Homo sapiens: one gene and its partners. The protein of the gene in region 6 purifies or fractionates together with the protein of the main gene of each other region. This does not show direct contact. Each region holds a gene or a part of one and is shown on either strand. Other genes may lie near its edges. The genes, in order: FHOD1, AXL, PPP3R1, ACVR1B, GOSR1, TMEM200A and DDR1.

Evidence for each region.
Region 1: the proteins of TMEM200A (region 6) and FHOD1 purify together in Homo sapiens (affinity purification with mass spectrometry; 2 studies listed by BioGRID and IntAct, with this or other methods). This does not show direct contact.
Region 2: the proteins of TMEM200A (region 6) and AXL purify together in Homo sapiens (affinity purification with mass spectrometry; one large-scale study listed by BioGRID and IntAct). This does not show direct contact.
Region 3: the proteins of TMEM200A (region 6) and PPP3R1 purify together in Homo sapiens (co-immunoprecipitation; 3 studies listed by BioGRID and IntAct, with this or other methods). This does not show direct contact.
Region 4: the proteins of TMEM200A (region 6) and ACVR1B purify together in Homo sapiens (affinity purification with mass spectrometry; one large-scale study listed by BioGRID and IntAct). This does not show direct contact.
Region 5: the proteins of TMEM200A (region 6) and GOSR1 purify together in Homo sapiens (affinity purification with mass spectrometry; 2 studies listed by BioGRID and IntAct, with this or other methods). This does not show direct contact.
Region 7: the proteins of TMEM200A (region 6) and DDR1 purify together in Homo sapiens (affinity purification with mass spectrometry; one large-scale study listed by BioGRID and IntAct). This does not show direct contact.

What each region holds. Positions count from the first base shown.
Region 1 is NC_000016.10:67,244,457-67,248,864, forward strand, and holds the start of FHOD1 (FH1/FH2 domain-containing protein 1), read right to left. Parts: upstream 3,026-4,408; 5' UTR 2,955-3,025; coding exon 2,754-2,954; exon of another isoform or gene 1,983-2,753; coding exon of another isoform or gene 1,812-1,982; exon of another isoform or gene 1,382-1,811; intron 1,286-1,381; exon of another isoform or gene 1,144-1,285; intron 1-1,143. UniProt on the Homo sapiens protein: Required for the assembly of F-actin structures, such as stress fibers. Depends on the Rho-ROCK cascade for its activity. Contributes to the coordination of microtubules with actin fibers and plays a role in cell elongation.
Region 2 is NC_000019.10:41,253,631-41,257,494, reverse strand, and holds part of AXL (tyrosine-protein kinase receptor UFO isoform 1 precursor), read right to left. Parts: coding exon 3,787-3,864; intron 1,044-3,786; coding exon 884-1,043; intron 3-883; coding exon 1-2. UniProt on the Homo sapiens protein: Receptor tyrosine kinase that transduces signals from the extracellular matrix into the cytoplasm by binding growth factor GAS6 and which is thus regulating many physiological processes including cell survival, cell proliferation, migration and differentiation.
Region 3 is NC_000002.12:68,217,797-68,221,660, forward strand, and holds part of PPP3R1 (calcineurin subunit B type 1), read right to left. Parts: intron 1-3,864. UniProt on the Homo sapiens protein: Regulatory subunit of calcineurin, a calcium-dependent, calmodulin stimulated protein phosphatase. Confers calcium sensitivity.
Region 4 is NC_000012.12:51,993,080-51,996,943, reverse strand, and holds part of ACVR1B (activin receptor type-1B isoform a precursor), read right to left. Parts: intron 2,960-3,864; coding exon 2,834-2,959; 3' UTR 1-2,833. UniProt on the Homo sapiens protein: Transmembrane serine/threonine kinase activin type-1 receptor forming an activin receptor complex with activin receptor type-2 (ACVR2A or ACVR2B).
Region 5 is NC_000017.11:30,475,995-30,480,461, reverse strand, and holds the start of GOSR1 (Golgi SNAP receptor complex member 1), read right to left. Parts: upstream 3,055-4,467; 5' UTR 3,029-3,054; coding exon 2,998-3,028; exon of another isoform or gene 2,650-2,997; coding exon of another isoform or gene 2,469-2,649; intron 1-2,468. UniProt on the Homo sapiens protein: Involved in transport from the ER to the Golgi apparatus as well as in intra-Golgi transport. It belongs to a super-family of proteins called t-SNAREs or soluble NSF (N-ethylmaleimide-sensitive factor) attachment protein receptor.
Region 6 is NC_000006.12:130,441,035-130,443,674, reverse strand, and holds the end of TMEM200A (transmembrane protein 200A), read right to left. Parts: coding exon 1,777-2,640; 3' UTR 608-1,776; downstream 1-607.
Region 7 is NC_000006.12:30,883,163-30,887,473, reverse strand, and holds the start of DDR1 (epithelial discoidin domain-containing receptor 1 isoform 2 precursor), read right to left. Parts: upstream 2,956-4,311; 5' UTR 2,764-2,955; intron 2,495-2,763; exon of another isoform or gene 2,255-2,494; coding exon of another isoform or gene 2,243-2,254; intron 2,191-2,242; exon of another isoform or gene 2,086-2,190; intron 1,850-2,085; exon of another isoform or gene 1,794-1,849; intron 1-1,793. UniProt on the Homo sapiens protein: Tyrosine kinase that functions as a cell surface receptor for fibrillar collagen and regulates cell attachment to the extracellular matrix, remodeling of the extracellular matrix, cell migration, differentiation, survival and cell proliferation.

The DNA of each region.
Region 1 (4,408 bases), on a different chromosome or scaffold from region 6:
CAAGCTCCCTTCCACCAACCAGGGCCAGGAGATGAGTCAGAGGCTGTGGCCAGGAGCTTCCTCCTAGTCTAGGAGGAAATGAGCAAGGCTTTCTGAGATCTGAAAGCTCTTTAAAAAGGAAGCCCCCAGGGGAACTCTAGGGGCTAGGCTCGGCCCAATGGGGTGTGTGGGTGGAGTCCCAGGGAGAAAGCAGGCTGGCCTCTGTACATCCCCAGGGAGGGGGGTCATCTGCTGGGATGATCAGGGCCAGTACCCGGGGCCAGTACCCAGAGGAGGACAGAGGCCACTTGGCTGTGTCCTGTCCTCTGCTGGACAACTGTACATAGGACGAAGCAATGAGTAAAGAACCCCTTCCTCTTATTTCTGCCCTACAGCTTGGGACAGGGATGCCCTGGTTTCTGGGCCACCTCTTCCCTCTAGAGGGCCAGCAAGACAGGCCTGAGTCATGTCTGTGACTCTGGGGCACCCACTTATAGGACTACGGGAGGAACCAGCTGTTGACATTTCCTGCAAGGAGGGGCCCTGCTCCCCCTTGCTCAGCTCTCTGATGTCCCTGTCTCTGCCCTATTCTCAGCCCCTCTTCCTCCAGCCTTCTATTCTGGGGCTGTGGTCATAGTTTATATTTGGGTTGAGCACATCACAGTGCATCTGACCATTCCTGGCAGAGTTGCTAGCCCCAGGGAATCCTGGCTTCTGGCATTGTGGTAACCTAGTGTGCCACCTCCATATCCCTGTGGGGGAGGGAAGGCAGTCCTCAGGTACTCCAGGTGGGAGAACATGAAATCGGGGAGACCAGGAAGGACTGCATTGGGGATGAGGAACTTATATTCTTCACCGGAGCTCAGTAGTGTCCTCAGCTAAGGAGCAGGGAACACAGGGCAGAGCACCTGGTAGGGTTGGGTGGGGACACGGGTCCCATGAGAGGGAGATAGAAGGAGTGGTTCTGAGCCTCTTTCTTGCAGCTGACTTCCCAGGCTTGCCCCCAGCTGGGAAGAGGTGTGTCAAGGGGCTGGGCATGGTGGCTCAAGCCTTAATCCCAGCACTTTGGGAGGCTTAGGCAGGCAGATCACCTGAGGTCAGGAGTTTGAGACCAGGCTGGCCAACACGGAGAAACCCTGTCCCTACTAAAAATACAAAAATTACCTGAGTATGGTGGCGCACACCTGTAATCCCAGCTATTTGGAAGGCTGAGGCACGAGAATTGCTAGAACCCGGGAGGTGGAGGTTGCAGTGAGCCAAGATAGCCCCACTGTACTCCAGCCTGGGAGACAGAGCCAGAATCCGTCTTAAAAAAAAAAAAATCGGGGGGGTGGTGTCAGGGCTAGGTCCAATCCTTGAGTTGCAGGATGAGAGGAATACAATATATTCTCTAGTGCCCCACCCTTATTTCAGGATCCGGACTTTAGGAGCCTGGAAGCGGGAACCAGTCTTAGTTCAGCACTCCTGTCTTCCCAGCCCCCATCCTGAATGGGAGGTGGCCTCCAGCTGCACACGCTTCTTCCAGGCACACCTCAATTTGCCCCTCTGAATAGGGCAAGAGAAGCGGGGGCTGAGTCAAAACTGGCGGTGAGCAGTGTCCTGCATCCTTCCAGCCATGGCCTTGAAGCCGGGGTTCTGGCCTGGACACGTGCCACTCTCCAGGCCAATAGTCTCACCACCCCTCCCGCCAGCGCTCAGAGGCGGGGCTGGCCGCAGCGCGAGGAATGCGGGCTGGGGGCCCGGGGCACATTCCAGGGAAGACCCCAGGCCCAAGGGGCAAGTTTACGCAACTCGCCGCCCAGCTGAGGCTGGGAGCAGGGGAGGGCACCCACCCCGACTCTCTCTCCTCTTCTCCAGCACTGGAGGCGGCCGGGCTGGTGGGGAGCTTGTGGAGGTGGTAGTGCGCCTCCCAGAGTCCTGGCCCGGAAACAGCGCGCCGGAAAGGGCTGCCTGCGGGGGGCTGACGGCGGCGAGAGGGAGGGGAGAGGAGGTAGGCTGGCCATCTGGAAAAGGGCCTCTTTCCGCACTGTGCACAAGTCCGCTTCGGGGCGGCAGCAAAGTAGGGCAGGCCGGCTGTTTAAAATTAGTCCGGCCCTCCCTCTCACTTTCAGGCGCGGGCCGATGGGCGGCGAGTGTCCGGGGGTGGGGGCGGGAGCGGTGACTCAAAGGGCTTTTACACCCGTGCAGCCTCCTGCGCTCTGCGGATCCCGGGCCAGACCGCTTCGCGGGGACTCCCCTCACCCCGTGAAGTCTCTCCTCGGCCGGCACTCCCATACTCCCATTGACCTACAGGGTCAAGCCCCAATCCAGCTTCCTGACACCGCAGGAAACCTCTGCCACCTCTAGTAGTCCGCCTCGGGCCCGCCCCTCCTCGTGGTCCCGCCCCCACCTCACCTGAAGCAGGTGGAAGCTGGTCCCTCCCCAGCTCCGCCTCCAGGGTCCGCTACAGCCCAAGCGGCTACCGTCACTCTGACCAGGGAAGCCACCCTGGCAGACCGACGGCGAGTGGAACTCGAGCACCTCCCCAGGTGCGCCTAATTCGAAGGGCAGTCAGAATGGCGGAGCCAAGTTCCTGGCACCCCTCTTCAGTTTCCCCTCAACTTGAGAGGGGACTCCCCCGCAGGCGGGGCAGAGTGGACCCTGGGACCCCAGCCCAAGACTTTTCCGGAGAAGAACACTCGCTCCAGCCTCTTCCCGCGGAGCACCTCCCACCAGTTTTCATGGCGCCCACCCTGAACCCCCGATCGCCCCAACCTTTCTCCGGCCTCCCTCACCTTGAGCGGCGCTCCCAGCAGGCGGTGCACCGCGGGTATCTGCGCGCCCAAGGGCAGCGCCCCGTCCAGGCTGCAGGTGGGGGCCCGGCGCGGCTCCGGAAAGTTGGCACATGCGAAGGGGTCGGTGTCTTCCAGGTACTGCACCCTCACGGTCACCACTGATACCGGCTCTCCGTCCCCGCGGTCTTCCCCGCCCGCCATGGCTCTGCGGCCGGCTCACGCAGCGCGCCTCCGAGTCCCGGCCCCAGTGCAGCTTCTACTCAAAGCACACTGTAGCTCCGCGGTTCGGGCCCGGCCGGACCGGACGCGGCTGGAGGGGCGGGGCCAGACGGAGGCGGGGCCGAGGAAGGGGGTGGAGCCAAGATTAGTCCCCGAGTGCGCGCCAGGAGGTAACCACTGCCGGAGGCGGGGCCGCCGCTAGCCACTCACAGGGCCCAATGGGAATCCCGTTAGTTCACTGGCTAGGAGGGCGGGAAAAACCGAGCTCGCGCCCCACCTTCGAGAACGCGCAGAAGGCGGGGAGGCTTTCTTTGGTCTGGGGATAGTGAGGCTGCGTTCTCTTTGAGGGGTGTTAGGGCAGATGGGGCAGAAGTTTCTTTAGATAGTGGCCGGCCAGGTCTCTCTCAGTTGAGGGACAAGATAGCCCTCATTCCTTCCATTTGAGGGGTGAGTCCCTGTGGTTTCCTCATTTAGGGAAAGCAGTGAGAGGGGGTCCCTTCAATTTGGAGCAAGAAGTGAGAATAAATTCCACCCAGTTTGAAGGAAGAGGTGGGATCAGTTCCCTTTAGTTGTGGGAGGAAGAGGGAAGGATGCCCTTCAGTTTTCTGGGAAAAGATTGGGAGGAGTCAGTTTGAGGGGGCAGATAGAACACGTTCCCCTCAGTTTTGGAGAAAAAGTGGGATGGGTGCCCCTCAGCCTGAATGAAAAGTGGAGACGGTCCTCCTCTGTTTGGGGCGCTATGAGCCGAATGCCCCTCAGATTTGGAAAAAGTTGGGTGCATCTCGCCTAGTTTGAAGGGAATCAGTAGGCTGGGTTTTCCATAGGTTCCTGTCAGCTTCATCAAAGAGATGAGACAGTTCTCTGTAGTGTGACTGAAAGGGAGGGCCAGGTGCCCCTTGGTTTGGGAGATGAAGAACAGCCTCCCTCTTCGCCTGGCACGAGCTGGGCCAGTCTGGGCCTTAGGGTTTCTGGGACGTTGGGGGCAGCGTTGTCCGTCACTGCTTTGGGGAGCGTCCAGTGCGCGTGCGCAGCTCAGGTCCGGGTGGGGGCCGGCAGGGGGTCCTGGGCTTGGCAACGTGGGCGGAGGGCGGCCAAGCACGGTCCCCTGCGTTTTGCACCCGGCCGCGCCTTGGTCCCAGGGGGGTGCTGCTCGCCGCACAGCAGCGCTGGCCGAGGAGGAGCCGTGCCCCTCCCGTCCTGACCGCGCCCCCCGCAGACCCCCGCCCTTCCCGCTGCGGGCTGCCCCAGGGGGGCCGTGGCCGCGCACCGCTCTGGATCTGGTGGGGGCGGTTTTGGGGAGGTTTGGGGGCGCGGACTCGAAGGAGTAGGTTGTGGAACTTGGGGGAGAGCTGCACTGGGGAATTTCCGGAGCTGGGACTGATTTAGGGAGGAAAGAGGAGAGAGTCCCCGACTACGAGAGTCCGAGGCAGGGTCTC
Region 2 (3,864 bases), on a different chromosome or scaffold from region 6:
CACTGTGAGGGGCAGAGGGAATTAGACAGTCTCTCCTGCACAGAATCACCCGCACCAATACCCAGGTTCATGGGTACACCCACACTTATGTACACATGTTCACAACCATCCTCTGGGAGCATCACAAGTATTCATAGAAACATAATACTTTAGCCGGGTGCGGTGGCTGATGCCTGTAATCCCAGCACTTTGGGAGGCTGAGGTGGGCGGACTGCCTGAGGTCAGGAGTTTGAGACCAGCCTGGCCAATATAGTGAAACCCCGTCTCTACTAAAAATACAAAAATTAGCTAGGCATGGTGGTGGGCGCCTGTAATCCCAGCTACTCGGGAGACTGAGGCAGGAGAATTGCTTGAACCCGGGAGGCAGAGTCTGCAGTGAGCTGAGATCATGCCATTGCACTGCAGCCTGGGTGACAGTGCGAGACTCCATCTCAAAAAAAGAAAAATATATATATATAAAAAATACTTGACACGGGTATACACATGAATAAGTAACTTTTGTGGATGCATACACATGCTCACCATCACACACATATACACACTTCATGGACACATGAGCTCATGTGCCACTCTGCACACCCTGGCTGTCCACATTCTATGAGTGTGCGCACATGCACGCATAATCACTGCAGCTTCTTCTAACCTAAACTGTCTACATTGCTACCATGCACACGTGGGCCTGTATTTATCCTGGGCATGTACACACCACTATTCAGAGATGCCCACCATACCCCAAGACATGCCCAGCCCATGTGGACAAGCCCCTGCAAAGGGAAGCCCACATGTCCCTGTGACCCTTGCATCCACAGCCACCCAGGCATAGTGTGTGATGGTCAGGCCATGCCCTCCCATGGTTCCCCACTCTTGGCGGGAGTGCACCTACCACATCGCTCTTGCTGGTGTAGACACGGTCAGCTAGACTCTCAATGGCAATCCACTTGACTGGCATCTTGGCGATACGTCCCTGGCGGTAGTAGTCCCCATTGTAGATCTTCTTGGAGAGCCCGAAGTCCGCCACACACACGGACATGTTCTCATTCAGCCTGTTTGGATTGGGGAAAGGAACAGGGTCAGGGCATCAGTCACCTCCACCAGGAAGCCTGCCCTGGCTCTCAGACACATCTGCACCTCCTCCCCTCACTGTCCTGGCTGCGGGTGGGGATCTGTCTCCTAAACCTTCATCCCAGTCCAGAAGGGAACTGCTTTACTTCTTGTTCACTCTGTCAAGTGAGGATGGGACAAAGGGCTTCCTCAGGACTTCCCAATTTTGGCTCTTTGCTAGATTCTAAGGTCCTTCCTTGGGTTTGATTCCTTGATGAAATTTTTTTTTCTTGAAGTATACTGTACATATGGAAATGTGCACAAGTCATAAGTAAGCAGCTCACTGAATTTTCACACACACACACACACACACCCATGTAACCAGCACCCAGATTAAGAAACAGAACATGGCTGGGCATGGTGGCTGGCGCCTGTAATCCCAGCACTCTGGGAGGCCAAGGCAGGTGGATCACTTGAGGTCAGGAGTTTGAGACCAGCCTGGCCAATGTGGTGAAACTCTGTCTCTACTAAAAGTACAAAAATTAGCCAGGTGTGTTGGTGCACATCTGAAATCCCAGCTACCTGGGAGGCTGAAGCAAGAGAATCAGTTGAACCCAGTAGGCGGAGGTTGCAGTGAGCTGAGATCACGCCACTGCACTCCAGCCTGGGCAACAGAGTGAGTGAGACTCCGTCTCAAAAACAAACAAAAAAAAAAACAGGCACAGTGGCTCAAGCCTGTAATTTCAGCACCTTGGGAGGCCAAGGTGGGAGGATCACTTGAGGCTAGGAGTTCAAGACCAGCCTGGAAAACAAAGCAAGACCCTGTCTCTACAAAAAAATTTAAAAATTAGCTGGACATGGTGGCACATGTCTGTAGTTCCAGCTACTTAGGAGGCTGAGGCAGAAGGATAGCTTGAGCCAGGAGTTGGAGGCTACAGTGAGCTATGATCATGCCACTGCACCCCACCCTAAAGGACAGAGTAAGACTCTGTCAAAACAAAAAAGAAAAGAAAGAAAAAAAGGGAAAGAAAGGGAAAGAGAGAGGGAGGGAGGGAAGGAAGGAAGGAAGGAGATAAAGAGAGAGAAAGAGAAAGAAAAGAAAGAAGAAAGGACAGAGAGAAAAAGAAAGAAAAGAAAGAAAAAGAAAGAAAGAGAAAAAAAGAAAAGAAAATCCACAGGACATTCATATGATGGAATACCATACCACACAGCAAAGAAAAAGAGCAAACTACCCCTACACAGATCCATCTCAAAAACATCATGCTGAGCCATAGAAGCCAGACACAAAGCAGTACAAACTGCATGATCCCATTTGTATGACTTTTCAGAACAGGCTAAACTAGCACTGAGAAGTCAGGATAGTGGGTACCACTTGGCGGTAGTGATTGGGAAGACGAAGAGGCATGAAGGAGCCTGCTGGGGCTAAGAAATATTCTTTACCTTCATCTAGTGGTTACATGGGTCTATACCCATAAAAATTCATCGAGCTGAGCTGCATGTGTATATTTTAGTGTATGTAAAATATACATCAATTTTTTTTTAGATGGGATCTTGCCCTGTTGCCCAGGCAGTAGTGAAGTGATACCATCATGGCTGACTTCAGCCTCAACCTCCTGGGCTCTAGCAATCCTTCCACCTCAGCCTCCCAAGTAGCTGGAACCACAGGTATACACCACCATGCCCAGCTAATTTATTTTTTGTAAAGACAGGATTCACTATGTTGCCCAGGCTGGTCTTGAACTCCTGGGTACAAGTGATCCTCCTGCCTCAGCCTCCCAAAGGGCTGGGATTATAGATGTGAGCCACTGCGCCTGGCCAAGACTAATATTCTAACTCTGTGGTTCCATTCCCTCCACCTTCTACCCTCCCCTTACCCTCTATTCTGGCTTTTGGGGGATTTTTTGTTCTTTCTTTTCTTTTTTTCTTTTTTTTTGAGATGGTGTCTCGTTGTTGTTACCCAGGCTGGTCTCGAGGCTCAAGCAATCCTCTCACCTAAGCCTTGGGAATGGCTGGGACTACAGGTTACTATTTTCTTTTTTCTTTCTTTCTTTCTTTCTTTCTTTTTTTTTTTTTTTTTGAGACAGAGTCTTGCTCTGTCGCCCAGGCTGGAGTGCAGTGATGCGATCTCGGCTCATTGCAACCTCCGCCTCCTGGGTTCAAGCAATTCTCGTGTTGGGATTACAGGCGCACACCACCGCACCAGGCTGAATTTTGTACTTTTAGTAGACAGGGGGTTTCACCAAGGCTGGTCTCGAACTCCTGGCCTCAAGTGATCCACCCGCCTCGGACTCCCAAAGTGCTGGGATTACAGGCGTGAGCCACTGCACCCCATCTGGCATATTTTCTGCTTGTCCATTGGTGGGGAGTTTGATTTTCTTATCCAGTGTGGCCGCTTCCAAAGGGCAGCCCCAGGCAAGACACCCAGCATGGAGTGGGACAGAGATGCAGCTCACGTGTCCCCACCCCCATCGGTCACCTCAGCCCCTTTGCTCACCTCATGCTGTGCACTGAGCCCACCTTCTGGTCTCTTCCCTCTCCGCATCCAAATGCTCCTTCCAGATCTCAGTTCAGGACTCACCTCCTCCAGGAAGCCTTCCCAGACCCCCTTACTGACTTTCCTGGTCCTGAGTTCTGACCTGCCCTCAGCGGGTGTCTAGCCCTGCTTCCATCCTAAGAAGGAGGGAGGGAACTCCCTCAGGGAGTGCAGGAGCAGTTGGGGGGGGGGGGTCCCTGAAAGGCACTCACATGCAGTTCCTGGCCGCCAGGTCCCGGTGTATGAATCTCTTGGTACTCAGATACTCCATGCCACTGGCGATGTCTGCC
Region 3 (3,864 bases), on a different chromosome or scaffold from region 6:
CTATCAATTTTCTATACTAGGATTTTATGTGAAATATATTTAAGAAAAAAAGTGTTCTAGAAAAACTAGAGACCTGGGTCAGTGCCTACATTTAACAACTCTTGAGAACTGGGACCAGGGAGGTCAAATATCTGCTGGAAGATCACACCATTTGATTAGCAGTGGAATCGAAAGTACTTCTAAATCTAAAACAGTAATATCTCAAGTAGTATAACAGACTCAGAGGTAGAATCATTAAGGTCTTTAAAAACGTCTACAGAATTTAAAGTAATATAAATTAAGTTTTTAAAGTTCAGTGGTAAATTGAATACGAAGCATCCTATATTCTATTTATCTAACCTTGACCCTGCCTAGCAATTAAATAGCAGTAAGTATACAGTTGCTATTAATTTAAGTGTACAATTAACATGGGCATATTTAAATATATATCTTCAGAAGCTACTGAAAACCTGAATTCTTTTTTTTAGTATGACTGGCTGGCTTTTAAACTCCTCAACGTACCTTTAATCTTATGTAAACTTAAAGGCTAATCAGTAAATTACCACATTCAATTAACTGACATATTGCCAATAGCTAGTCTTTTTCTTGCAAGTTATAGCAGATAATTGCAATTTTCCAGAACTGGTTAATTTAATATTAGGTCACTTTAAATATCAAATATGTTAAAGTGAGGATAAAAGAAAGCAAACATTAATAAAGCTTGATATTAATGAACAGAGATGGATTTCTGCTTACTTTGCACATTACTTAATTGATCTTAATATTCTTACCATGATTCTTATCTTCACTGCCTTACATATTCTTGCTGTCTTAATTTTTTTAATGTTTTTTTTTCCTTATTCCACTCCACCTTAAAGTTAAGTATGTTTCTTGCAAGACTCTCAAGAGCATACCGGTATTTTATTTACTAAAATTTGCACTGTCACTGTGAGTTTTTTTTTTTTTAAATAAGTATCATTACTGTTTTATAAGTGAAGGTAAAAAAGTGTTATGTGGTGGTTTCAAGCAGGATTTTAAAACCAGGTCCTTGTTTCTCCAGTTCACTGACCTTTACAGTGTTATCAATTCTTTCTAAATGATACCATCTATCTCACCTATTTATCTGTATCATTCCCAACTAGACAACGTCCACAAGACCTAAGAACCAACCAGTCCAGGGCTCCTAAGGACTTTCCCATTAACAAAGAATAACTCGTCTTGCTCCTAAACTTGGAATGCATATATCCAAAACACTACTGCAACCACAATCTGTCCCAAACTGACCACATCACATCTCTGCTAAAATTCAATAGCTCCCACCTGCCTTCAGAATAAAAACCAACACTCTTTAGAAAGCTAAGTAAAGTCCTTTAATTAAGAGAACTCGTATCTCTGTAGTCACTCTCCCAAACAGCACCACCATCTCTATCCTACACTCCCCACTTTTTACTTCAAATTCTGTATTGTTTGAACTTTCACAGCAAGAATGTCTTCATAGTCTACCTTCCATTTAAAAAAGGAAACCAAAGCAAAACATGGCAATATAAAGATAATTTTGTCAATATGGTCAATATAATTTTGTTCCACGTTCAGTCTTCCTCATGCTTAGTCATTAGTAAAAACAGGAGTTTTGGAGATTCCCCTTTATACTCCTCTCCACACCCCCTCACGTTCAGCTTCTTAAGCTACTACCTGGGAGTATTACATTTATCAGTAATTGTTTCATTCAGGTTTGGTGTGTGGGCTATAGTTTATTGATCCCTGAACCTAATGCATAATTACATTTAACAAAAAATACACATCAGTTTGTAAATTATTATATCAGACTTAACTGGAAAAAATAGCATTTCTGAAGGTAAATTAATTCTGCAGTGAATTTGTAGCCAATAGCTCCAGTCTAGGGTTGGGAAATACTAAAATAATGATAGATACTGTGAGAGACATACCCAATAAGGTACTGACATTTACTTCTAAGAGAACCACTCAACTAAACAAAACCATAAAATTATATCTAAATATGAAAAAAGTCCTAAAGCTAACATGTTTTAAGTTTACATAAGAACACTTGAAGAATTCAAACATCATGCCACATGACCAAGTTACTGACAAGATCACTTGTTGATGAGGTCCTTAAATAAATCCATTTGCCTGAAGTTCAAGATAGACTCCCCTTACACTATACTGATTTAAAAATTCAGTAACATCTGCCCATGGGGGAGAAATGCTATATGAACCACTTGACCAGTGTTAAAAAAAACTAGTAAATCAGAAAAATTTTATCAAACAACATTTATCAGGCATTTTCTGTGATCATCTATATAAGAAAACAAAAGAGGTAAAGCCCTTAGGATCTATGTCCCAGCTTACTGTCTGGAGAAAGTTTCCAGGTTGCAGCACAGGAACAGAGAACAGAAACACAATCCCGAGACATCGCCAAATTGAGAAGTCAGAGATACATGAAGTTCGTATGGCCAAGGAGGTGAGACTTGTGAGGAAGAGTACTTCAGAAAAGGGAGACACATGAGAGAACTTTGGAGATCTGCATAAAAGTCTCCTCCAGTCTCTGCATAAGTTTGAGAGGAAACTCCCCAAGTCCAGGAAAAGAACTAGTAGCAGGTTGAATAACTTTTGGGAGTTTGCACAGAGCTAGGAATAGTTCATGATCCCATGGGCCAAACTGGAGAAACTTGTAAATACACAGGGAATTGGGTCCAGTCCTCAGAACGACTATATTGGCCATGAATTAAAGGCTGTTCTTTACTTACCTTAAGAAAGATAGAAAACAAATCTCAGATCAAATTTGGGTCTCAGTAACTTAAGTGGATGGCAAAACAAACTCTTACGTTCTTTAAAGGAATAAAACAAAATCTAGCACAACAGCATAAGATTCACAATGTATGTATGACATCCAATATAAAACATAATAGGACGCTATAAAATGGATGAACTTCAAAATCATGGTAAGTAAAAGAAGCCAAAAACAAAAGGCCACATTTTATGATTCCATTTATATGAAATATACTGATAAAGAAAATACACAGAAACAAAATGTAGAGACTGGTGGGTGCCAGTTACACAGAAACAGAATGTAGAGACTGGTGGGTGCCAGTTGCTGGGGGAGGAGGAATGGTGAACAATTACTTTTTGGCTATGGGGTTTCCTTTTAGGGTGATGAAAATATTTTCGAATGACATAGAGGTGGTGGTTGTACTACATTATAAATGCCAGCCTGGGCAACATGGCAAAACACTGTCTCTACAAAAAATACAAAAAAGGCCAGGCATGGTGGCTCACGCCTGTAATCCCACCACATTGGGAGGCCGAGGCAGGCAGATCACTTGAGGTCAGGAGTTCAAGACCAGCCTGGTCAACATGGTGAAATCTGTCTCTACAAAAAATACAAAAATTAGCTGGGCATGGTGGCGGGTGCCTGTAATCCCAGCTACTCGAGAGGCTGAGGCAAGAGAATCTCTTGAACCTGAAGGTGGAGGCTGCAGTGAGCAGAGATTGCACCACTGCACTCCAGCCTGGGCAACAGAGCGAGACTCCACCTCAAAAATAAAAACAAAAACACGAGCCAGGCATGTTAGCATATGCCTGTAGTCTCGGCTACTCAGGAGGGTGATATGGGATAACTGCTTGAGCCTGATAGGTCAAGGGTGCAGTGAGCCTTGAGCACACCACTGCACTCCAGCCTGGGCAACCAAGCAAGACTTTGTAAATAAATAAATAAACAAATGTCACTGAACTGTTCACTTTTAAAATGACTTTGTTATGTGAATTTCACATCAATAAAACGTTTTATATGCTGTTTAAAGAAATAATGGCCCCAAATCTTCCAAATTTGATGAAAACTTTAAATCCCCAAATTCAAGAAGTTCAATG
Region 4 (3,864 bases), on a different chromosome or scaffold from region 6:
ACAGTCCTTTCTAATAAAATGTACAAAAACAAACAGAAGTACCGAGAATGCCGTTCGGGGGCCTTTATGGCGACGTAAGAACGGGCTTGGACTTGGTCTGTGAATCCAGAATCCAGAGGTGCAGGTAGCACTATGGATCAGGGTTAGCCTCGGGGGGCCAAAAACACGGCTTCAGTTTCTCCCCAACTCTCACTTAGTGTTAAGAGTGGCAGAGGTGGGTGTGGGAGCTTCCCAAAGACCTGCTCCATCTTCCCCAGAGGTGGAAGAGTTGGACTGTGTGTGGGGTAAGGGCAGAAGGGCCAACTGGGGAGTGGGCTAGTGGCTTGGGAGTGGACGTGTGTTGGCAGATCCCAGAGGCTACTTGTGACTCTGGGAAGAGGAGTCTAAGTTCCATCATTACCTATAAACCGCCAAGGTTCTGCTGCAGGGCGGATAGGTGGGAGGTCAGCAGGGGTAAAGACGGTCCCCCCAATGACACAATGGTATTTAAACGAAATTAGTGGCCAGTAAATTGGCCCAAAGGTTAGGGGAAGATCTCCTTTAATGCAAGGAAAGAAGCAATAATCAGTCAAATAAATAGAAGGGCCAGGAGCACTGGGGAGCCTGAGGGCAGGGACAGGGCTCTCCCTCCTCCACAAGCTTTGGCAGAGAACTGCTGGGTTGGAGGCAGAGATGCTCTAAGGCTACATACACAATACACCTCCCCTGGGGACAGGAAGGGGGCTCAGAATGAATGCAGTGATTTGAGGTCTCACCTGGGGTTCTAAACCCCAGGTCTCATCACCCGCCCCTGGTCTCTTTGTGGAGGGGGTTGTGGGGGTTCCTCTTTCTTCAGTGATCTTATATAAGAACAATAATTCTAGGCTCAAAAGGGTCGTAGAACCAATTATGAAACCTTCTGGTCTCAAAACAGGCATCTACTTACTTGAATCAGCTCTTTTTACAGTGCTCCAGGAGTAGGACCCAAGCATGTCTTGTCCACAGATGTATTCCCAGCACCTGGCACCCAGCAGGCACTTCACCCACATTTGTTGAATAAATGCCTGGAGAGGGTACAACCAGCTGGACAGTGCAAGAAAGGGCCCTAGAGCAAAAACCACTCAAGGAATTGGGGGTGGGGACAAAATACGAGAGAGACTGAGCCTCAGGGCAAAGAGGAACTCTCACTGCTGAGTGGGAACAGGCTCAGGTGCAAGGACAAACATTTCCAGTGTGATTGAGCTATGTGCGTTCAATTGGATAATTTTTTTTTTTAGGGATTTCTTTAAAAACAAATAGATTGAGAGGTAATCACAGAGATGGTTTTCCTTTTACAAAAACTTAATATTTAACAACATTAAAAAAAGTTAAAATCCAAACCCTCCCAATAAAATTAAAAAAAGAAATCAAACCACTCCAGTTAAAAGTTATGGCTTCAAAGTTATTATATACCTAAGATATGCTGACCAAATCACCACCCACAGCCGTGCTTCTAGGCTTCGTTAAATACTATACTCAGGTTAAATAACATGTTCGGCTCAGGCTGTTCCCTTCAGTAGGGCTCCTGAAGTGGATGCAAACCTCTCACCTTCCCTCCACCCTGATCAGACAGTCCAGTAAAAGAAGACCCATGCAGATGCCTCCCTCCCACCCCAGACTCCCTCCCCACTCCTTGCCCGCCCTTCCCTTCCCCACCCCAAACCCACCACCACCAAAAATATACACTGCTGTTTCCAGGATCTGGGAGATGAAAGACAGATGTAACATTCCAATCTGAGTCCCGAGATCTGGCTTCACATTCCTCGGCCCTTCCTCGATGCTGCTGAGGATGATGCCCTTGGGCTGGCTCATTTCCCATGGCTGACACTAACACCCAAGACTTCCACCAGGATTCCTTCCCTGCCCATCCCACCCACCACCCTCACATTTTGGCCCAAAAGCCTCTTTTGTCATGGACAACTGGGCCAGCTTTGGTTCCACAGTCTGAGATGGAGGAGGAGAGCTGTGCTGATGCTGGGGTGGGCAGAGTAGCCTGCCAGACACAGAGTACCACTGTGGCATGAGGGGCTCTGGGGGAGGGAGAGACCTCCAGGGAAGGGCACCAGGGAAACTAGATGCTGCTCACTACTGAAAAGAGGCACCAGCAAGCACGGACAGCATGACGACCACACCCCCGACCTGCACATGCACAGAAAGCTCAAGCAGGTAAGTGCGCACCTACAGACACACACACACACTCACACGCACGTGTAAGGGCATGGCACGAACCAGGCACAACGGGGGACGCACCTCGGCACATGCACACACGGCTGGACAGACAAAGCGGCAGATTCCGTCTCCACTGGCAGTCTCCCGGCAGCGTCCATCCCAGGGAGGAGGGGAAAGCGCGGCTCAGAGCTGCCTGTGAGAGGGGCTGCACTTCTGGTTCTTCCGGGCCACCTTGGTGTGCTGTGGGCTGGTCCCCGAAGGAAACCCTCAGGGCAGCTTAGCACTGGCAACACCTCGGTTCCTCCGGCCCCTCCCAAGCGCCCCTGTCATGGCTCCTGGCCACGTGCCAGATGCACCGGGTTTCGCGGGACTTCCCACTACAACCAGTTCGAGGTGTGGCACTGAGTTCTCCACACAATTCGCTCTCAGAGTCTCCATGCCATTAGGAGGTAAATAGAAAAGGTGTCTGTCTCAAACCCAACATGGGAGTGAGCGAGTCTCTCCCGGGCTCTGTCCCTCTTGCGGGCCAGGGCTCCTGGCCACAGAGGGCTGGGCAGAAACGAGAGGTAGGCCTCCATCGTACGCTCAACGCGGCAGCTGTGCGTAGTTCTCGCTGCCAGGAGCTCCGTGTGGAGAGAGGGAGCAGTTAGATCTTCACGTCTTCCTGCACGCTGAGCTGGGAGAGGGTCTTCTTGATGCGCAGGGCCGTCAGGCGGGCTGCGCCGTTGGCATACCAACACTCTCGCATCATCTTCCCCATCACCCGCAGTGCCTGTGCAGAGACCCAGGAGCCATCAGCTCGGTCATGCCCTGGAGAAGCCTTTCTGGTCCCTAGGCTCTCACTCATTTCCCTGCCACCTCCCGCTCAGTGCAGTCTGGCAGATCCACATCCACCCGGCGGCCGACCTTAGGGAAATGCTCTGCAAGGCTCCCTTTGTTCCCTGGCTCTTCCTTTTTTTTTTTTTTTTTTTTTTTTTTTTTTTTTTTTTTTAGAAGGAGTCTCACTCTGTCACCCAGGCTGGAGTGCAGTGGCGCAATCTTGGCTCACCGCAACCTCCGCCTCCCGGGTTCAAGTGATTCTCCTGTCTCAGCCTCCCCAGTAGCTGGGACTACAGGCACACACCACTACGCCCAGCTGATTTTTGTATTTTTAGTAGAGATGGGGTTTTACCATATTGGTTGGCCAGGATGGTCTCGCTCTCTCGACCTTGTGATCTGCCCACCTCGGCCTCCCAAAGTGCTGGGATTACAGGCATGAGCCACCGCGCCAGGCGGCTCTTCCTTTTTAAGGGACAGCTTACACAAGTGAAAGGCAAACGCTGCAGCTAACGGCCAGCTCTTTTGGTCTCACCTGCCCTCTGAAGCAAACCCTGCCCTGAGGGTTCCAAGGAGTGCGGTGAGAAGTGCTGCTCTATGATGCAACACGAAAGCATCAGCTAATATGCAATTCTGTTCTGAAATGCAGAAATGCCCTCTAGTGGTTAGACTCGTTAAAGGCAGAGCCAACCTCTCTACTTGACTAGGTAAGTTCTGGGGCTCTAATGGACGGCAAGGTGACTAGAGTCAACAATACTGTACACCTGAAATGTGCTAACAGTAGGTCTCAACTGCTCTCACTACACACACAAGCAACAAGGTGAGGTGACAGATGTGTTCACTAACTTGTGTGGTAATCAT
Region 5 (4,467 bases), on a different chromosome or scaffold from region 6:
CAGCATTATCAACTTACCAGTTAATGTTATAAGAAAGAAGCCATTATTCTTTTGAAAGGGATTTTGCTTTTTATGTTCCAAAGCTTTATTAGGCTTATGAACTTCTTTTCATAATAGCAAAATGACTTACCTTTTTTTTTCTTTTTTTTTTTGAGATGGAGTCTCGTTCTGTCACCCAGGCTGGAGTGCAGTGGCATGACCTTGGCTCACTGCATACTCCACCTCCTGGGTTCAAGCAACTCTCATGCCTCAACTACCTCCCAAGTAGCTGGGACTACAGGCACACACCACCATGCCTGGCTAATTTTTGTATTTTTAGTAAAGACGGGGTTTCACCATGTTGGCCAGGGTGGTCTTTAACTCCTGACCTCAAGTGATCCACCCACCTTGGCCTCCCAAAGTGCTAGGATTACAGGTGTGAGCCACCACGCCCGGACCAAAATGACTTCTCAATTGAACATAAAGAAAAAAAGTTACCACAAAAATTGCCTTTTTCTTTCTTTTTTTCTTTTCTGTTTTTTCTCACAATGTTGCCCAGGCTGCTCTCGAACTCCTAAACTCCAGTGACCCTCCTGCCTGGGCCTCCAAAAGTGCTAGAATTACAGGCATGAGACATCGCACCTGGCCAAAAACCGCCTTTAAAAAACTTACTGAGGCCAGGCGCAGTGGCTCACGCCTGTAATCCCAGCACTTTGGGAGGCCGAGGCAGGCGGATCATGAGGTCAGGAGATCAAGACCATCCTAGCTAACACGGTGAAACCCTGTCTCTATTAAAAATACAAAAAATTAGCCAGGCGTGGTGGTGGGCGCCTGTAGTCCCAGCTACTCAGGAGGCTGAGGCAGGAGAATGGCGTGAACCTGGAAGGCACTGGAAGGCAGAGTTTGCAGTGAGTGGAGATTGAGCCACTGCACTCCAGCCTGGGCGACAGTGCGAGACTCCATCTAAAAAAAAGAAAAAAACTTACTGAAAGTAATTTGGAGGGCTAAAACTAACAATAAACAATGTGCTACTAACAAGGTCGAATATGAGTATGATAGAAATAAGTACATAAGTTTTAATAGCAGAAGCAAACAGGCAAGTAGAGAAATTGGTTTAGCAGTCTGGCATCTAAGGGTTGCGTGACAGAAGCCACAGTCTGGACACCCACACACAGATACGAGTATTCTCATTCATGGTGAAGTGAAGGTTAAAATAAAAGGGCAGAAGTACCAGAGGTAATGGTATAAGAATCTCTCTTTCAAAAAGAATACAAAACATTATTTCAATATGCTTTTCAACCAGAAATAGAAAGCGTAGTTAACATAGTGGAGCATATTTGCCCAGAGACCAAATGCCAGTTCGAATCTCGGCACAGCCACTTACTGACTCTATGATTTATCAACAATCTACTTAACCTATGAACTTCAGCTTCTTGTTTTTTAAACCCCTACCTTCAGGGTTTGCTTATGTATTGGTAATCATATGCTTACAGCAGCTGGCACAGAGTAGGTTGTCAGTAATGAGCCGCTGTAATATTATAGCATGCTGCTTCAAAAAACCACAGGCTAATGACTAGTAATAAAGATATCAGTAGCCTCTTCTACATAATTTTAAAATGTTTTCTAGCGGCCAGGCGCGGTGGGTCACACCTGTAATCCCAGCACTTTGGGAGGCAGAGGCGGGCGGATCACGAGGTCAGGAGATCAAGAACATCCTGGCCAACATGGTGAAACCCCGTCTCTACTAAAAATACAAAAATTAGCCAGGCGTGGTGGCATGCATCTGTAGTCCCAGCTACTAAGGAGGCTGAGACAGGAGAATCGCTTGAACGCAGGAGGCGGAGGCTGCAGTGAGCCGAGATCGATAGCGCCACCGCACTCCAGCCTGGGCGACATAGCGAGTCTCCAAAAAAAAAAAAAAAAAAGTTTTCTAGCTGGTACACACATTTCAAATGGGCATTGTAATACATGTTTTAAACTATAAGCACGCTTTTCTGTGATTGGAATAATTGTCTTCTCTAGTAGGAAACATAAGTAAAAGCATTTTGAAAGTATGATAGGCAAATCTGGATAAATTTAGAATTGAGTTTCTTAGACCAAGGGGCTGATAGTGACAATACTGTGGTTTCTAGAGGCTTCAGTGTATAGCAATAAAAACAGGTCAAAGGAATTTGGAAAGTAGTTTCTATGCGGCTGTAAAGCAAAGAGACAGTTGGGAGAAAAAGGTGAGCTTTCTCTGCTCTTGTTGATCATCATAATCCACGAATGAGTTTTATGTAAGCTCACTTTATCCGACTATAGTTTCAGGAATTAAACAAATGCATTTGTCAAATCACAGGAAGGTTTTTTTGGTGGGAGAAGTATAGCAAATGTAACTGCAATTCACACAGGTTCTCTCAACTTTTTCAATAAAACCGATTCTAGACTCTAGAGCAGAAGGGTAAGTTATTTTCTCCTCCTTCAAACACCCAGTCCTGGAAGTCCCCAACCTGTAGTTGTCATGGAGACCCAATAAGAGACATTCTGTCTCCTATTCTCTTCATACTTCCTCCGACGGACCGGAATGCAAGTTCCTCCTTCTCTTTTCCCACTCAGTTTTCCAATAGTGACCTCAGCTCCAATGCGCTGACTCCTCCAGTCTCCGGGGCTCTGGATCTTCTCCCTCAACATTCGTTTCCTCTCAGAGTTCGTACCCCAAGCCCCTTCGTCCGAGTTCCATTACTCCCTCAACACAATTCTACCCAGGCGATTGAGAGCCCTCTTCCTCTACATCCCCGCTCTGTCCACTCTGCCCAACCCCTGCCCCACGTCCCGCTCACACGCCCCGGCCAGGCCAGACCCCTACCCCAGACCGTTCGGTATCCCCAAGGCCCCGGGGATCCCACTTAGGCAAGCCCCGCTGCTCAGCTCGGCCGCTCCGGGAGTCTGGTTCTTTCCTGTGCTGCTTCTCCCAAGATCTGTCCTCACTCAGCCCCTCTCACCCTCGTAGGACGCACCCGGAGGCCTTCTCGCCCTCACCTTCCCAGTAACTGCTGGTCCCTGCCGCCATCTTTGTCGTCCAACGTCAGCCGGGATAGGGGAGCAGAGGCGATGCAGGCCGGAAAGTCACCATGGTGCGTGTTTCCGCCTTGAGAGCCAGGGCCGACGGGATGCGAGCCTCCGCGGACACTGCCACCTGCTGATCAATTCGTTATCTTACAGCTTTTAAGTAGCGAGAGAGAAAAAACTTCGGCTTTAGCTCCTGTCTTTCATTCCCGCTTTCTGCGCCCCAAACCATCATCATCTCCCTCATCTCGGCTTATCCTTTCTCTCAGCAGGTGCCTACTTGACTGGGAGGAGAATCATCCTCAGGCAACTCCCTCAATTTCCCTCACCTTGTCTCTAATTTGTATCTTCAGCCAATTTCTTCCTTTCTCAGACATAGAGACCCTTTCTTCCCAGAGCCATTTCCTTCATCCTACCTCCCCGCCTGTGCTCCATCATCCACGTTCTTTGGCGTATGCGCTCTTCTCCACTGGCTGCTTTCCTTGTCTACAGCAGTTCTAGTCCCAGCCCTCTTTGTCCTTGTCAGCCGCCACATCTAGAAAGAGTGAGCTAACTGCTTCTACATGCTCTCGGCCTGAGCCCTCAACCTGATAAAATCTGCTGTCCAAACCCACACTTTATAGATACATAAATTATCACAGTCTACCGGTGCTGACTTAATTCTAGTGAAGTGTAGAAACCTTAATTCCTGTAAAGTTCTTTCCCCCACTCATTTATAATATAGTTGTTTTTAAGTATTTCCTCTGCATTCATTGAGGAGAACCACATCAGTGTTACAATATTTGCTTCAAGGGTCAGGCATAAGTTAGAGAATTCAAGAGAAGAGGAAAGCTTACTTGATTTATGCATATTTTACTCTTCTTCGTTCCTAGTGTCCCAAGATTCCTTTTTCTAATCGTTTCCTTTCTGTTTCAAGAATTTCCCTCAGCCATTTTTTTTTTAAAGAGTAGATCAGCTGGTGACAAATTCTATTAGTTTTTCTTCATCTGAGAATGTCTTGATTTCCCTTCATTCTTGGGGGATCGGATATTGTTGCCAGATATACAATCTGAAGTTGACAATTTCTTTCTTCAGCACTTGAAAAATGTGCCAATTCCTTCTGGCCTCCATAGTTTCAGATAAGAAATTGACTAAAATTGGAATTGTTTTTCCACTGTAGCTAAAATACATTTTCTCTCTCACTGCTTTCAAGAACTGTTCTTTAGTTTTCAGAAGTTATGATGTGCCTTGGTGTAGATTTCTTTGGATTTATCCTGTTTGGGATATCCTCAGCTTCTTGATTCTGACATTTATGTCTTCTGCCAAATTTGGGGGATTCTCAACCATTGTTTCTTCCAATACTTTTTCTGTCTCATACTGTTTCTCTTCTTTTTCTGGGAGTCTGATGACGTGAATGCTAGATCTTGTGTTAATGTCCCACATAGCTCTGAAGTTATGCTAATT
Region 6 (2,640 bases):
ACAGCCACTGTTTTCAAATCTGAGTGCCGCTGACTTTTGCTGTATTTGGTTATTTTCCTGAGAGTCAATGAAACTTTAAGTGAAAACGATCCCAAGATAAGAAAATTTAAAAACAGTCTAATTAAATAGGTGGATAGACCTAGCTCTTTAACCGAATAGAAGCAAAATTTAAAAGCCGAGATACTCAGTACATGTACTAGGGTATCAAGTGCCCTCAGTAGAATATATCTGAAAGTGTGAAAAACAGTACTTTAAGCAGAAATGTACATTTTATTTAAAAAGCAATAGCAAAGGTGTGAAGAACACAAACTTCTATTAATAACAGTTTATTAAATGCTTTATAGTAAAATATTGAGCCCACTCTATTACAATACACAGACTTAATGTTCTAACAAAGAAAACTGCCTCAATTGAGGGAAGTTTGTGATGCAAATGCAAGGTGGAATTTTGGGGAGCAACACAAACAAATGTATCCTCCTTCTGCTCTTCCACAACTGCAATACTGATGTTCAGAAATGTTTAGGTATTGGGAGAAACCTTTAGAATTTCCTGAGTATTTTATTAAACAATTCTTACAATTATGTTACCTTAAAGGAAAACATGAAAATTTTCTGATGAAAACATCCATTTTAATATTTATTATCTTCAGTGACTAAGAAACACAATCCTAAACAACATGTATTATACCGTAAGAAAGTCTTTGGAGTTATCATAAGGCTCTCCAGCACAAGGTAAACTTCAAGGCAATTTATCAAGAACTAAATTTTTTTGAACTACCGAGATAGTGGCATATGAAGGTAAAAAGAAATGTCAAGGTTAGCCGATTGTTTTCCAAATACTAGGATCTAAAGAATACCGGGGGAAAATAGAATGTGGGAATGAGGTGCTATTGGACAGTAACAGATGGCTAAAAACAGGTACTGAGACTAGTTAGCATTAACTAGTATATAATGTATCTTAATTCATTAGTCAACATTGTCTTCATGTATATAATTATTTCAGGATAGCATTTCTACAAATTTTATTGGTTCATTTAGTTTATCAAGTCAGCTTGCAAATAAATTTTGATTCCGAGTATCTAACGTTATAGCAACTATAATTGCATTTTGATGTTTATCCCTAAGTATATCTGGCACTGTCAGCCATGGCTCTTGAATACGTTGTTTCTTGATATAATATCACTAAAAACAGAAGTGATATTGAAAAAAATAACTACTTATCTAAAACTCAAGATTCACAATGAACTTAACCAATTAACATTACTGAGCTCACACTAAAACTAGATCTTTTTCATTTTAAATAATGTAACCAAATCCTACAAAGAACAATTATTCAGAAAATCACATCCTAAGGTTTGCACTCATAGTCATCTATAATACGTATTGAGTATTGGGACTGAATTTGTACTCCTGGTCCACACTTTGGTACCCTATGTTTTCCATACTGGACATTTCATTTTATGAATAGGGCAATCAAAGAACTTAAAAGTAAAGAAAATAAGCTTTAATTTGGATGCAAGCATTTTGCATTCATATTAATAAAAGAGATCATGCTTTCAAAGGAAGAGAAAAATAAAATCATGTGTGGTAACATAGAGTACTGCAGTCACAAGTAACCCAAACATACAACCATCTTCATTACAGAACTAAGCAGCCAATTCTAATACACTACAAACCATTTGATTAAAAAGGCTTACAGCCAATACTTTAAGAAGGAAACACCAGTGAAAATCGTTTTAAAATATATACCCTTGTAAAATGATATATTCTTTTAACATTAAAACCTTGTTTCAGAAGTTCCCCTCTTTAGGTTGTTACTCAAAAACTCATCATGTTCAAAACTCAAATTATTGTGAGATCTTGAAATCATAAGAAGCTTCTCCTTATTGGTAAAGTCCTTTTTGATGGCAACTTGGGGCACAAGCAACCTATCCATCGGGTCTTCTTTGTTCTCTAGTTTCATATATCCCTTGCTGTTGTTCCGATCCAACCTAGGCCAACTTGGATGTTTCCGTTGTTCTGCCTGAACAGTTAGAGTGGAGGGACCCCGGTCTAAGTCCAAGGACTTTGAGTGTGACGAGAGCAAATGCAAGGATGTATTGGACCCAAACTGTCTTCTGGCAGCCCCAGGAGACAAGAGCTGTCCAGCCCCAGGTCCGAGAGCCATAGATGACTTGTACTGACTCGACAACGACTCCCCAATGGAATTATTCCTTGGTAGCACTGTGCTGACGGGCTGGAAGGATTCACTGGTGTTGGGCAAAGGAACCACAAGGGAATCCATTGACAAATTCCTTGACCTACTTTTGAGGTTGTCAGCATCTTCAGTGATGTTATCTATACTGGGCTCATCAATAACACAGTTATTAAGTTTGATCACAGGCAATGTAAAAGCACTGATGGACGATGACACAATTGACTTGGTTTCACATTTCTTAGAGCCGCTGGTCTTATCATCAGTTGTCTTGGAAGGAGGTGGATAGAGGCCAAAGACAGACACAGAGCTGTCAGAGAGCAAAGGGGGCATAAGATGCCCAGAACTCTTACCTTCATTTAACATAAGTTCATCCTCCTCCACGGAGCTGTCCATTCGAAAACTGCTCCGAAAACCCGAGAAAGAGGCGATCGTATTTGCTGCCAA
Region 7 (4,311 bases), about 100 Mb from region 6:
GTCTAGAAGGAGAGAATATATAATAGAATATAACAATAGAATACAATATAACAAGAGTTAACATGAACGGGGCAAAAGAAAAGCAAATTTAAAAAGACAGGTTGATTGTACTATTTTTCTAAATCTTGTAACATAAATGCATTTATGTAAAATCATAAGATATGTAAAAGAATATGAAAATCATTTTGACTTTTAAAAAATAAATATGTCCCAGGAAAGGTTGGGCAATTCCTTGTTGAGGATATGATAGAATTAAACATCAGATAAGCCTGGACCAGCTCACCCTGCTGCCCTCCCACATAGGAGTCCAGAATTCTAAGAGAAGGGCAGAGGGGACCCCAGCACCTTCTAGTCTTACTGTCCCCTATAGCCCTCTAGGCCCAGGGTGGTCCCTGGACCATCAGCAATACCTGGAAGCATGGAAGAAATCAGAATCTCAGGCTCACCCTTGACCTGCTCAATCAAAATCTGCCTTTTAACACAATTCCCAGGTGACCTGTGCCCATTAAAGTTTGAAAATCCCTACTCTGTTCCTCAGGCCCAGGAAGCTTACCCCACATAAAACTATTCTAAATGGCATCTCCTTACAAACCCAAGTAACTACTCTCCCCTCCCCTGCTGCAGGAAAAGCTATCCTAACCTGTACTGGTCTCAGAGCCCTGTACTGAAGTCTCCAGGCCCTGGAGTCCTGAGGGACTCGACTGCCACCTCTTATCAGGTTCAGGGCATCTTGGGCCCAGTTATCCCTGCTCTGCCTTCCTGAGACCCAGACATCCAGTCCCCCCAGTTCCCACTTCCAGAAGGTGGCTGCCTCTGAGGGACTGAGGAAAGGCTGAGTTGCCTTGGAGACGAGGGCGGGTCTAAAGACAAGGAAGGCAGGTCACCCCAGGAGGTAGGAGGAGTGGGGGATACTCCCCCATCCCTTTGTCCTCCTCCAGCTGCTCCCACAATGCACTAGGGCAGGAATGTAAGAGGCAGCTGAGACCCCAGAGCTCTGAAGCAGCAGCTGAGGGGGACGACTGAGTTGTGGGGGGCACTCAGAGGCTAGAACCAGAAGGCATCACGCCTGGTCCCTTAGGGTCCAGCGCCGGGGAGCAGGCTGCCAGAGTCCCAGGAGACTGGCTTGGAATTCCTGGGTGCCGCTCTCCAACCCCACCTCTCTCGGGAACAGCGGGGCTCTTGTTCCCCTAAGTAACCTTCATGCCTATCCCAGATGAGTCATCAGAGCCACACAGAGCCGAGAGGAGCCCGGGGCAGAGATACAAAGGCAGGCAGAGGATACGAGGCAGGCGGAGACAGAGCGAGAGCCACAATGCAAGAGGTAAATAGAGCAGGCTCAGAAACACGGGGCACAGAGCCAAGCAGAGGAACACGGAGAAGCACAGAGACGTCTGGGCTGTCTGTTCTCCAACACCCCCAGTCACCTCATCTCTCTCCACTGGGTCTTCAGTCCACAGTCAGAGACCCAGAGGGCAAGAGAGGACAAGCCCAGAAGACCTTCCCCAATCCCACCCCCTTCCACTCCATTACAACCAAAGACAAACCAGGGGCCAGGCCACCCTGCCTCAAGCCCTTCACGCTCCTCTCCCAACCCCCAAGTCCCACTCAGACAACACCCACACAGCTCTGTACACACACACACGGTGAAACACACAAACTTACTGAACTGGCTGTAAACAGCGAGGCTAAATGTGGCATGCACACACCCACCTCTCAGTGTCCCTGACAACCCTCACAGAGTTTCTGAGACAGAGCAAACACAGAAGCTCATGCATACATCAACCCGTCCACACCTTGGCATTCCTTCAAGTCCAACCCCATCGCTCAGTGAATAGCCACCTTCAGACACCTGTGAACATGAAATGACAGACACCACATGCTCCTGTGACCAAAAGACAGCATGAGACACACACACCCGGGCCCTTGGGCACAGGATCCCCAGAGAACTGGGGCCCAGCCTCTAACACACATGGGTGACCAAGCCAGAGGGACGTCGAGGGGGCAGGGAACAGGTGGGCGCTGGGTGGGAAGAGTGGCAATAAGGACAACAGCCTTTCCCTGCCTTTCCACTCACTCCCCTTTCACCTGTCTCCACCACACCACTCAGTCCTGGACACACCTACAGGCCCTCAGCAACAGCCAGCGAGCTTGGGCGCCTGCCTCTGGCTGCTGGAAGCGCTGGGAAGAAATGTTCAGCCAAGAGCCAGGCATGGGGGGGTGGGACCCTGAAGCTGGCGCTCACCGGCAGTGACATTCTCTCATGCCAGAGCTAATTGACCATCCAGCCGGGAAGAGTGGTGTCACTGGTGGGTTAGAGTGGCAGTCCCTCTTTTTGCTGGACTGTGACCAGACTGACCAACTGGGTGTTGGCTGAGCGGAGGCTTAGCAGTTAGATGCCCGCAGGGACTGGCCAGGTGGAGGGCAGGCGATAGATGAGCTGACTCAGTGGGGCTGCACAGGAGCACCTCCTCCCGGGGCTCAGTTCCTCCGCACTGAGTGAGAGGGGACTTGCCTCAAGGCTGGAGGCTCAAAACTCTTTCTGGGAGGTCACGGGCTTCACCTCCACCCAGTCCCCGCCCCCGGTTTTCAGACGGTATGCCAGAGCATCGGGGAGGCGGGCAGGGAGGCTTAGAAGAGCTGGACGACCAAGCATGGCTCGGGACGTCCTGCCTCCCCCGCCCCTCGCCCTGCAGGCGCCGCCGCGCGCCCCCACCCCAAGAGCCCCAGGCCTCCGCCCGCGGGTTCCGCCGCCGCTCTCCCTACCTCTCATCGCTCTTCCCGGCAGACCCAGGCGTCCGACCCGGGAGCGGGGCCTCTTCGGCGGCGGGGCGAGGGGCGGGGGAGGCGGAGGGAGCCAGGAGCCGGGAGCCGGGAGCGGGAGGCGCCGGCGGGGCTCGGGTGTCGGGAGGCGGCTCCCGAGAGCAGCTGTCGGGGGCCTGTTCCGGGGAGAGGAGCCAGGGCTGGGGCGGCTCGGGCCCAGGCGCCGCCTCCCCCTCGCCTCGGCTCCCTCCCTTCCTCCTCCCGCTCCTCGCTCCCCTCCCTCCCCTCGGCCTTCTCGCCGCGCGTTCGGGCTCGCAGCCCTCCCTTCCCCCTCCCGGACCCAGTAGTCCCAGTGGCTCCCACGCCCGGCGCCGAGCTCCAGGCCCCGCGCCCGCCACGCCCACCCCGCGCGCTAGCGCCCGGCCCGGCCTCCCCCAGGTAACCCGCCCGCCAAGCCCGCCTGGGCGCTCCCAGGCCGCCCAGCCGCCCGCGCCGCTGCCTCCGGCCGGCTCCGCGCCCAGCCCCCTCCACCCACTCGCAGCCCACCCCCGCTTCCCCAAACGAGAACCTCCAAAGCTGGCGCCCCAGGGGGCTGGCTGCAGTCCCGCTCAGGGCCCACGAGGGGAAGACGCCCCTCCTACTTCTGGGATCGGTTCCTGGTGGGAGAGGCAAAGGGGAGCAGCCCCAGGGCACAGAGGAAGAAGCAGGTTCCCACAGGCTCGGCCCAGCCCAGCTGCGGGAGTTAGCCCAGAGAAGGGAGCAGAGCTCAGGTCTCAGGGCTCACCTGTCCAGCCAGGCCCCAGACTGCTCTTCTCCCTCCACCAACCTTTGCTCCTCTCTCGCAGCCTGTGCGCTCCCGCCCCTACGACCCAACCTGGAAGGCCCCAGACCCTGAAGGCGGGCCCACTCTCTTCTCCTTCTCCTCTCAGTTCCTCTCTCTGAAGGGCGTTCTAAGGGACCCGGGGGTCCAGACGCCCAGGCCCTGATTCCCCTGGGCTCCCAACGGAGTGGAGTGGGAGGGGGACTCAGGAGTCCTCAGGGCAAGCCTCCCTCAGGCCCAGCCAGCTCTGGCCGTAGTGGGCCAGAGGGTCTGATCACTGGCCAGAAGAGGCCAAAAATGAGGCCAGGACAAAGTTGAGTGGTCGGGAGGAGGAAGAAGAGGAGCAGGAGAAGGATGGAGGCACACTGAAAATCACACACAGTCAAAAGGAAGGGGACCAAGAGACCCAGGGAAGATGAAACAGTGAGACTGAGTAGGCAAAGCAACTGAGAGAGCTACTGGGCAGAGGATGGAGCGGGACAGAACAGCTTGTGGTGGGAGGTGCTTTTTCCCCACTCAGCACTACCTCAGCCCCTCACCTCTCTCCACACCCCCACACCTGCTCACCACCTAGACAATGTCACGGTCACAGGAAGTTCTCGCTCCACTGCACATCTCCGCCCCAGGAACCTCACAGTAGATAAAAACATACCCTGCTTGCAGTCCCAGACAACAATCCCAAGAAAGAAACACGAAGTCCCAACCAGACAAGTACACAAAAGCACTACCAG